Regions from separate parts of the Homo sapiens genome. Here region 2 is linked to region 1. A link means that fine-mapping ties the variant in region 1 to the expression of a gene that starts in the linked region. Tissue or cell type: tibial nerve. Region 1 holds a variant in brackets; the other region holds the start of a gene. All regions are shown on one strand. Distances are from middle to middle. Region 1 has its middle 81 kb from the start of LINC02058. Region 2 holds the start of LINC02058 (long intergenic non-protein coding RNA 2058).

Evidence for each region. PIP is the estimated chance that this variant, and not a neighbour inherited with it, causes the effect.
Region 2: it holds the start of LINC02058, and the variant in region 1 is the best candidate, but not a certain one, in a credible set for the expression of LINC02058 in tibial nerve (GTEx, PIP 0.87).

Annotation. Positions count from the first base shown.
Region 1 is chr5:93,018,276-93,023,669 of GRCh38, reverse strand. No RefSeq gene overlaps it. Among named protein-coding and RNA genes, the nearest start is that of LINC02058, 81 kb to the right of the region's middle. The variant C/T (reference allele first, on the strand shown) is at 2,883.
Region 2 is chr5:92,936,838-92,942,231 of GRCh38, reverse strand. It overlaps LINC02058 (long intergenic non-protein coding RNA 2058), which reads left to right and starts at 2,446. Exons shown (of 3, transcript XR_001742811.3): 1 at 2,446-2,761.

The sequences.
Region 1 (5,394 bases):
CCCCTGTCCTTATGGTCTTGGGGCATAGGTCATTTCCTCATAGGAACTCTCCTCCAGGCGTCTGCATGGCTAACTTCTTTACTCAGAAGCCACCTTCTCAGTGAGGCCTATCTTGACCATCCTGTTTGAAAGCACAATCCTCTTTCTCCACTCCCCATCCCTTGCCCATAACTCATCTTCTTTACCATGCTTTATTTTTTTCCCTCATAGCCATACTATCTTCTAACATCTCATACAATTTACTTGTTTATTATAGTTATTTACTGTTTCTCATCTTAGAATGTAAGCTTCTGGAGGCCAGGGATCTCTGTTTGGTTCATTGACACACCCACATACCTGGCTTGAACAATACCTAGCTACACAGAGTGAGTGTTCATAAATATTTGCCGAATGAATGAAGGAAAGGCCATGGGCAGGAACCTCATCCAGATGAAGTGTACGGTGAAAAATACCAGGCAATAAGCAGTCCCAATGGAGAGCAGCAGGAAGGAGGCAGGGTTTTAAAAACAGTCATCTGCTTTTCCATTTTGCATTAGGCCTAACCCTACTTTTAATTTAATGAACATAGTGAAAGATTCTAATCTACTCCAAAATAATTTATATAATAGATAGGCTTATGGGCATGACCATGCTTCTGACAAATGAGAGATTTCTGTCTTTGAGTTCTGCTGTGTAAACATGACAGATGGTTATATAAACATAGTACTTAAGAACTGTATTTGGCAAAGGAGCAAGAAATATTCTTACAATGACATTCTGCACTTTTCTTTACAAGAACCAGAAAATTGTATAAAGACATGAAGTCCCTTTCCCTTAAATCTGTAAAAAGTGTCTATTACCGTGTTCACCCAAGTCAACCATATTTCCAAACTGTTCAAACTGTATTGCTCTTTCTGCAACTGGACAACAATGGCTAATTTGATATTTAGGAAAATGTATTTAAGCTTTGATCTTTAATGTTGACTAGTTATTTGATATTTATTTAACTCCTGAAAATCTCAAGACTTATGAAGTACAGCAAAGGAAGAAAAAAATGCAAGTATCTTAAAAACAGTTTTATTAATATTAAATTATATTTAAGTGGGAAATTTGCAGAAATTTTCTATTCAGTAGACAATTTTAACGAATTAGGTTTACAACTTAATTGTATCAGACTTAGAGGAGGTTATATAATTTCTGAGGTCACCTTGAGATCATAAGGAAGATAATGCAGACTTTATTCTCAAATACAGCTCCCAGGAACGTACTTAGCTTATGAATAAACAGATTAAGAAGGATCTTTTGTTTCTTCTGTTACTCTTGCTCTTTGAATCAAGATTCAAAGATCATGATTTCTCTGCCTACACTCGCTCTAAGTTGCTTTTCTCTCAAAGGATGGTTTTATATGGTGGTACCCCTCCTGCCCCTACCCACCCCCCACCCACCCCCCAGCCCCTCATCTGTCTCCAGCCTTCAGTCTTTTCAAGAGAACAGAAGGAAAAGAGAGCTAATCACACACAGTCCACACTCTGGCCTTCTTAATGAAATGATTTAGGTTACTGAAGTTCTCCCTGTTAATGTTGTAGTTGTAAAAACTATGTGTATTTCATTAAAATTTCTTATGACTTTTGTTACATTGGCAACAATATCTCATATTTTATAGGAATATTTCTAATTGATATCCACAATCTAGATTTCAAGTACCTGGACAATGACATGTGTTCTGTAATAATGGCTATTTAAAGCAATAACTCAGAAAAGGACCAAACCAAACCAAACAAAACTGTGGGTAGGTGGGATCATGAGATATTTAGCTTGAATTAGAGAGTCACAAACCTTGTTATTTAAAAACTGGAAAAACTGGGAAAGCTTCATTTTCTCCATGAATTTTAAAGAGTGCACAAGCTTAACCCACTGAACACAACTCTGAAATGTTTCTAATTCCCTTATTATCAAGGAAGGTAGACCAGAGGGTGTGGAAAGAATTTTACCTTAGGGAAATGTACCGCTGTGCATTCTCAGTAACTGTATAGTCCATTTCTGCCTGTATGCTTGAAAATTAACGGCATGTTAACGGGACTATTGCCTACACTTGTGGCACTGTCTGCATAGGATTAGGCCATTAAATATTGATGGAGATAATTGTTCCTGCACTTGAACATCAGAAAGATGGAACTAAAAGTAGTTTAACTGGCATTTGCCTTTATGCTTGGTAAATAGAGGGCTGGATTTCAAGGTACAGAAGGATAAGTATTGCCATGTACTCAGCTCCATAGCCAAAGCATCATTGATCAGAAAGTGTGGTTTGTAAAAATGTTATAGTAAAAGTTAAATGAAACAATTCAGCTGAGGCTTGTCGAAATTTACTGGAATAGAATGTGATATAACTGTGCATTTAGAACATGCAAGCATGATTTCTTGCCATTTGTTGAATTATTTTTTATTTTAAAATGAAATTCACATGTGCTATGGGAAGAACTGCTGTTGTAGTTAGTGTATTTTATAATCCAGAAGATTTCTTATACTTTTATCAGATAATGCCTTAGGCAGGCCAACTGATTGAATAAAAGTCTCTAGGGCTTACTCTGTTTTATTGCTGTGCCTTGGAATTGTTTGTCTTCCAAACCAGATTTTCTCTTGAAAGGTTGTGTCCTGTTCATCATCTTAACCTCAGTGCCTAGTACAGTGCTTAACACATCCTAGCTAATCAATAAATATATGTCGAATGAATGTTTGTAATATCATCCATAACCTTGATATTGTTACACAGTCATAGAAATATCTCATCTGATGGAACTGAGTTTCACCAGATTTGAATGATGACACCGGAGCCTCATGTACTTTACATTATTGGTAAAAACAGGGATCTTGGCTACCAGCAGACTTGTTTTTGGATCTAGGCT[C/T]TATTATTTACTAGCATGTGATTTGGAGCAGATTATTTAAAATTTTTAACCCTTAGGTTTTTTATTAGTAAAATGGGGATAATATTCCCTATCTCATAAAGCTGGTTTGATAATTAAGTAATGTATTTAAAAGATCTATCCATAGTGCCCAGAACACCATAGCTTCTCAATGACAAAAATTATGTTCAAAAATTGCATTCAAAAAGAATTTGAGCGATTTCAAGGATCTATCCAATGGGTCTGTCTTTTGTCCAGAATGTGGTAAACAAAGAGAAAGAAAATAATGCAAGTGTCTTGAAAGCATAATACTAGGGGATTATTTGTTTAATTAAAATGACTTTCAGTCTTATTTCAGTTTATCTTTATTTATTTATGTATCTTTAATATTCTAAGCCTGTGTGGCACGAATCACTTGCTGGGTAAACTAAACCTGCCTAAAATTAAATCAGAATGGATCTCCTTATTTGGTGACCACTGTTATTATGGGCTGAATTTTATGCTTCTCCCTAACCCCAAATTCATATGTTGAAGCCCTAAACCCCAGTACCCAAGAAAATGACTGTATTTGGAGACAGAGTTTGTAAAGAGGTTATTAAGTTAAAATAAGGCTGTTAAGTGGGTCTTTATTCAATCTGATTAATCTCATAACAGGAGATTAGGACTCTCAGAAGAGACACCAGAGGCGTGGCCACACAGAGAAAAAGATCATGTGGGGACACAGTGAAAAGGCAGCCATCATAAGCCACAGAGAGAGGACTCAGAAGAAACCAACTCTGCTGACACCTTCATCTTGAACTTCTAGCCTCTAGAACTGTGAAAAAACAAATTTCTGTTGTTAAGACACCCGGTCTGTGGTATTTTGTTAAGACAGCCCTAGCAAACTAACACAATTTTGTACACTAAATAAAGTCCAATTCAATTTTAATTTTATAGAAACTGAAACAAATAATTTAAAGATTTACTTAGTAAATTACTTCAGATTGGGATCAAATGTGTACATGAATTATGAAAATGTAAGAAATGGATATTTAAATAAGTATACCAGAACATAAAAATTCCAGTGCCTGGTTTTTTTTTTTTTTTTGAAAGCCACTTATCCCAACAATAAAACTGATGCTCAAAATATTTTGGGACCTATCTTTATACTCTGTTAATTATGCACTCAAGAAAATAAGTGTGACTATATTACAGCCACTCCATTTTTGTTTGTTTGTTTATGTTATTCAGCTTAGTCATTTAAACAATTTTCACTGCAATCGCTACAAGTTTTGTTGTTTCTTAGTATTGAATCCACTCTCAAGGGATGATGACTTTCCACCATGAACTTTGAAAACAGTTCCAAAGAAAACTTCAAAAAGGTTTTGAGTGCTTAGGATCAATGTCAATCCAGTGGGTACCTTGATTTTTTACCTCCTACAGTCTGAAGCTCTTGTAGCCACTAGCATAATCTCCTGCATAGGTGTCCCTGGTGCTATTCTATTTCCTTTGGTAGCATGCTGGGTGCATCTCCCTGATGCTGTGTTTCCCGGGGTTCACAGATTTATGGTGTCATTTGATTTTTGCTTTTCAAATATCTTGAAATATTTCTTTTGGCTGACCTTGTTTAGGTGTGCTTCATTTTAGCTGTCTGTCAACTAACCTCCCTGTGCAGGCTGTTTCTAAGCCTCCTTATCCCCACCCTTTGCTTTGGTTGTTACATCCTGCTACCTCTCTTTTCAAATTTTACTTCCTTAGATTCGGTTATGTTACTTAAGCCAGTTAAAATTTCTCTTAGTTTCTGATACTATCAGTGCAGTGGAAGGGAGGCAACAGTGTGAGAGTTAAGTGAGGACCCTGAGGTTGGACTCTCTGAGTTCGAATCTCAGCTTTGCTTGTTGCCACTATCTGTGATTCGTTTGATTACTTACCTTTCAGAGCCTCAGCTTCCTTCTTCTTACAATGGGGGTTTCAGTGATACCTACATTATTGGTCATTGTGAGATTAAATGAGTTGATATCTGCAAAGCTCTTAGCAGAGAGCTTGGCACACAGTAGGCTCTCAGGAAATGTTAACTGCTGCAATCATACAGCATCTGTTTCTAGGAAGTAACAATGTGCATGCCTCAGCAATGGCTGACTCCTGTGCAAAAAATGCAAGCTAGAAATCCAGTTGCCTCTGAAAAGCTGTGAGTTGTCACTTAATTTCAGAAGCCACATGAAGATGGATTTCATGTCTCTTATCTTTGAGTGAGGCCAAAACCAAAAGCAGCTGGTTTTCACCCAAGAAAGTGGCCTGAAAATTATCATTGCACATTTCTCTCCCACTTTTGTTTTAAATTAGACTCCTCAAAGTCTCTACGTGGATAGGAGGCTATTTAATATTTCATTTGATCCCATTTTGCTACTAGAAACATGTAGACTTTGGGTGGGAGAAGCAGAAAGTGACTGAATAAATTTCAACAACCTTAATTTGGTTCATCTCAAAACTACATCTGTAGCCACATTTCCATTGAGGTTCCAACTTCTATCATTCC
Region 2 (5,394 bases), 81 kb after region 1:
TAAAGATTATTTCTTGAAAAGAGCTCAATGACTGACAAATTCCCCCTGTATCCCATCTTGATCAATCCTGATGCATGAAGCGTCTGATCGGAGCCCCTTTTATCAGGGACCTAACGAGGGAGAGGCCCAGAGCTGCTAGCAGGCTTCCAGGTATTCGCCTGCCATGCCACAGGCATCTTTGGATGGTTCCCATTGCTTCCCGTTACAGTTTCTGACTCTGAGGCATTGCTAGAGAAACCTGTCCTGCCAGTCAGTCAAGAAAAAAACATTAAGAAAAATTACCATTCAGGCCAGGCGCAGTGGCCCACGCCTGGAATCCCAGCACTTTGGGAGGCCGAGGTGGTGGGTAACGTGAGGTCAGGAGTTTGAGACCAGCCTAGACAACATGGTGAAACACTGTTTCTGCTAAAAATGCATAAAATTAGCTGGGTGTGGTGGTGGATGTCTGTAGTCCCAGCTACTTGGGAGGCTGAGGCAGGAGAATCGCTTGAGCTCAGGAGGTGGAGGTTGCAGCAGTGAGCAAGACTCTGTCTCAAAAAAAAAAAAGACTATCTAGCTCATATGTGTGAAAGTTTACCTGGTATATATGAAAGCAATACTTATTTTATAAAGTTTAAATTATTACACAGTCTATTTTTTCACCTAAAATAATTAGAGAGAATGATTATGTCCAATTTTGTTGAAAATGCAGGGAAACAAATTTGCTTATCACAGTTGTAGAGCTGTAAATTGGCACAACAATGGGGATATATTTTGATATGATAAGATATAATAGATGTGCGCAAAGATCAATGAGCAGTTGTTAATTATAGATACTTTACTGTGAATAAAAAATTGGGAAAATTTACCTAGTAATAGGGAACTGGCCAGTTAAATTATGTTATCTCCAAACAATGAGATACCATGTAGGCATTGAAATTCACATTGTGAAAGATTATTGATGGGAAAGAGTTAATTATGTATTTAATATTGAATTAAAAAATTGACTATCAAATAATATATGCAGTATATCATTTTTATAAAGAATGGTAAATATATATATAATGCAAATGCATAGGCATGTAAAATTGTACTGATAGATAAAAATGTGTGTATGTGTATAAATAAATTTAGTTTAGAAAATTGTTGACTAACATTTTACTACTAATGGAATTACGAGAATTTTTAAAAATCTGCATTTAGCAATTAGAACAAAGTAATTACTATATAAGATTGTTACTAGGTAAAGGGTAAGAAATTCAGATAAGATAAAATGCCTCACTCTCTTCATAACATCACTTGTTATTATTATTTTTAAATAAACCTGGCCCTTCGCATTCACGTTTGATCTACAATTTGCCCACATCAGTTACCCGTCCTTTGGTTGATACCCTTCCCTAAGGTCTTTATTAAGGGATATTATAGGTTTTTAAAATTGACTAGTCTACATTATTGCCATCCTGTTCACCTATGAGAAAACAGCTTAGATCTCACAATTAATGAAGGGTAGTGATTCAGCAACGGTGTTTGTTTTATTTGAATATTATTCTAGATCAGAGGTCATTATGTGGCAGTGCTTAGGCTGAGGCTGGGCCACAGGTGTTGGGATTAACTCCTGTAGTGTTCTCTAATATTTAAAAAGCATAAGATTATTTCATATAAAAATCCAGATATTAGGATCCTTTTGAAAAACAGATAGGCCTTACAATGCAGAACTTGAATTTCCACCAGACAGTGATTAGCTGGAGACTAGTAGACATTTTCCTTTATAAATGGGCACACATGCTCCAGTTAGCCATGGCTGCAGCCACCCCTTACTTTACCTTATTTTGGCTGAAATTCCTTGTCTAAGTTTATAGGCATTTTTGTTGCTGTCTCTTTTTTGGATCACCCCTATTTTCATCATATTTAAAGATTAAGATGAAATTAATAAATTGATAAGATAATTTGATGAGTATTTTCTTTATCATCTTAAGTAACATCATCCAGATGACAATTGGCCCTCTAATTTCAGAGTATGTTTCTATTTTATTTCCCTAAAAATAATAAGAGGGAGAGATACAGAAAGCAGGGGCTAGACAGAGAGAGAACATAGCAAAAGCATTTATCAGAGGAACACTTGTAATGTCAAAAAAACTGGTAATTGAAAGATTTTGGTTGTCTGGTTTACAATTTTCTCAGCCATAAAAAATTACTTTATTTGTATTTGAACAAGTCAATATTCAGTTTGTGTTTTAAAGTAAATTACTGAGCCTTTTTTCCCAACTGCCTCTGAGAATAGAAGAAGGAAATTAATGAACTATTAAAAAGAAACTAGCTTCACAAATTTATAGAAATTAAAAAAACAGAAAAACAGATTTGCTGGGAATATTACAAGGGTGCAATGATCCCCTGGCCTGTTAGGACATGAGGTATCAACTAATGTGCAATTAAAAAATAAAACCTGTGAGAAGGCAGTGTGGGAGAATAAAAGCCTATTAATGCACTCCTAAGGATTGAGGTTCTTGCCAGCAGAGCCATCTGTCAAGAGATTACAGAGAAGGAAATTTCTGCAGGAATCTTCCCCTGGGACGAGATAAAGTGCCAAGAAAAGGTGTGTGGCATCAGGAGTGAGGACAAACTCCGAGAGTCCTCTGCAGTGCTTATCGCAGACAGAGAGGAAACCATCCACCCACTGGCAGTCAGGGAAGAGGAAGAGAAGAGAGGGAAGTCTCTGGATTGCTTTTGACCAGAGAAGTGAGGTCGTATTGAAAAGAGTTTACAAAAACAAATTCCTTATAAGGTAAGTTAAACCTTGTTGTACTACACTCTTAAAATTTTCCAAAATACAACGTTTTATACTAAGGGCACTAATGAGAAAATGAATATTAATTTTATGAGTCACATTTACAGAAAATGATCAGAAATAGTTGAGGAAAAGTAAAATGTCATTTTTCTTGAAATCTTGAGTCTTTGGAGTTTATGAAAATGCCCAAGATGTTATTTAGATAAAATGTTGTACTAATATGCTATTTTCACTTATTTCTTCAAAATAAATGCCGTTTAAAAAGTAATCAAGATAAACTCATGATTATTTGCCTCTTGAGAATTAAGAACATGCCATGCTGTGAAATAATTAAAAACCATATGACCATGAAAGTTACAAGACTTGATAATAGAGAAATATATTTTTTAAAGTTTCTAGAATCATGGCAGGAAATGATACTTTAATTTTAAGATTCTAAATAGATCTTAGTTCATTTCCTGATCTATGTTTCTATATGGTAGTATTCTGTATATTTTAATAATTATTATTCCTATTTCCTTTGGTGATTGATTTTATTTTTTTCTAAGATGAGAAAAAATGTTGATTATAAAGAGGAAAAATATCACAAATTTATTATCTTGAGAATTAGATAAGCATTATACATTTTTTCTTTCAGAATTTTGTCAGAAAGAGAGCTGTTTAAATGCAATAAAATAAACATGTTAGAAGGCATGTCTTGTGCTAATTTACAAATGTTTTTAAACTTATAATATTGGTAAGAAATTGTTACTCAGAAATTAGGACTAAACATGCTTTAATTAAATTTTATTTTGCATTGATCAAAATAGAGATATTCTCCTTAAGTCACTGGTTACTTAAGGAAATGGAGATGTGCAGACATAAACATAAGTTCTAGACAGGGAGAAGAAATAAATCTTATCTGTTGGGAAAGAAAATAAAGTCAAATAACACAGTGCTAAGTCTGGCTGATCACAGCGATCCAGTGTTCATGCTGGCACTGTGCCCATAGCAGATTATTGCATTTGTAATTGGAGAGAAATTAACCTGTGAATTTAAGTCAAGTTATTCTGCGAATTCAATTAGAGTGGACAATTAATTTTAATAACCCAGGGTTTTGAATCTTCCTTCCTCTCCTACAAATGAACAATTTTTCCTGATTTATCAGAATATTATTTAAATTCTACTTTCTATTTAATTATTTTATCCATTCCTCCATTTACTTGTTCATTCAACCAATATTCAATGAATAATGTCCAGGTGGAAGGCACTATTTGGCTAGGCATGAAATAATGAACTGACGTGGTCCCTGCTCTCAAAGGGCTTATAGACCAGTACACTGCATACAAAGTTTCCCTTTAGCTTCATAATAATTTAACAAACAAAATTTAAATCTATTTTACCAACATGAATTTGAGGTTGACAGAAGGTAAGTGATAGCAGTAGGAAGTATCTATGTTAACATTATAATTCAAGACTTTCAGTACATTGGTTTTATTTGTTCTTTAGTATTTTTTTTTCCTGATAGTTTTTTTTTTATTATACTTTAAGTTTTAGGGTACATGTGCACAACGTGCAGATTAGTTACATATGTATACATGTGCCATGTTGGTGTGCTGCACCCATTTACTCATCATTTAACATTAGGTATATCTCCTAATGCTATCCCTCCCCCCACTTCCCCCACCCCACAACAGGTCCCAGTGTGTGATGTTCCCCTTCCTGTGTCCATGTGTTCTCATTGTTCAATTCCCACCTATGAGTGAGAACATTTGGTGTTTGGTTTTTTTCCTTGCGATAGTTTGCTGAGAATGATGGGTTCCAGCTTCATCCATGTCCCTATAAAGGACGTGAACTCATTATTTTTTATGGCTGCATAGTATTCCATGGTGTATATGTGCCACATTTTCTTAATCCAGTATTTTTTTATTTGTTTAAAGTAGCAAGGACTGAGCATTATTTACTCTGCTCTTGGGTTCTCATTAAATTCTTTACTTTAATAAACATGAAACAAATTAGTTTTTACATAGAAGAGGACAAGAATTCTTGTGCAGCAAAATGTCCTCTTCTATGTAAAAACCAACCTCTAAATATTGTCTATTTAAAATTGGAAAATAGATTCTTACCTACTATATTCATTGTTATTCCTACAATTAATTTTTGGTAATGTGCATTTCTATCAGTTTTGGCAGTATTATGATGGTTTATCCTAAACAAAAGTGATATTTAAGTTTTTGAGTTATGAAGATCTTCTCTGGGATCCTTGCCAGAAACAATGAAGTTCTTGCTTGGACCAGTGGGTCCAGAAACTGTCACTTCAAATAAAATGTGTTTATAAGAGAGCACTGTCTTCATATCTTTTCCAAATAATAAAGTACTAAATTCAATAGCCAATATTTTGATAATGCAACATATGTACTATAATATGAATATAGTATTCTTGTCATAGAGAATGAGTTAGTCAAAATAAAACAAGTTGCAGTCATATAACTGTGCAACTATTAGGAACAGACTCTTTAACATTAAAATAATGTAGTAGTTCAAAGGCACATAATGAAAGAGAACAACTGATTACTTTTGACTCTTTTTATCAGATGAAATCTATATTAGGCTTTTAGTTAGAGTTTGATATTTTTAGTCTTCAAAGAACA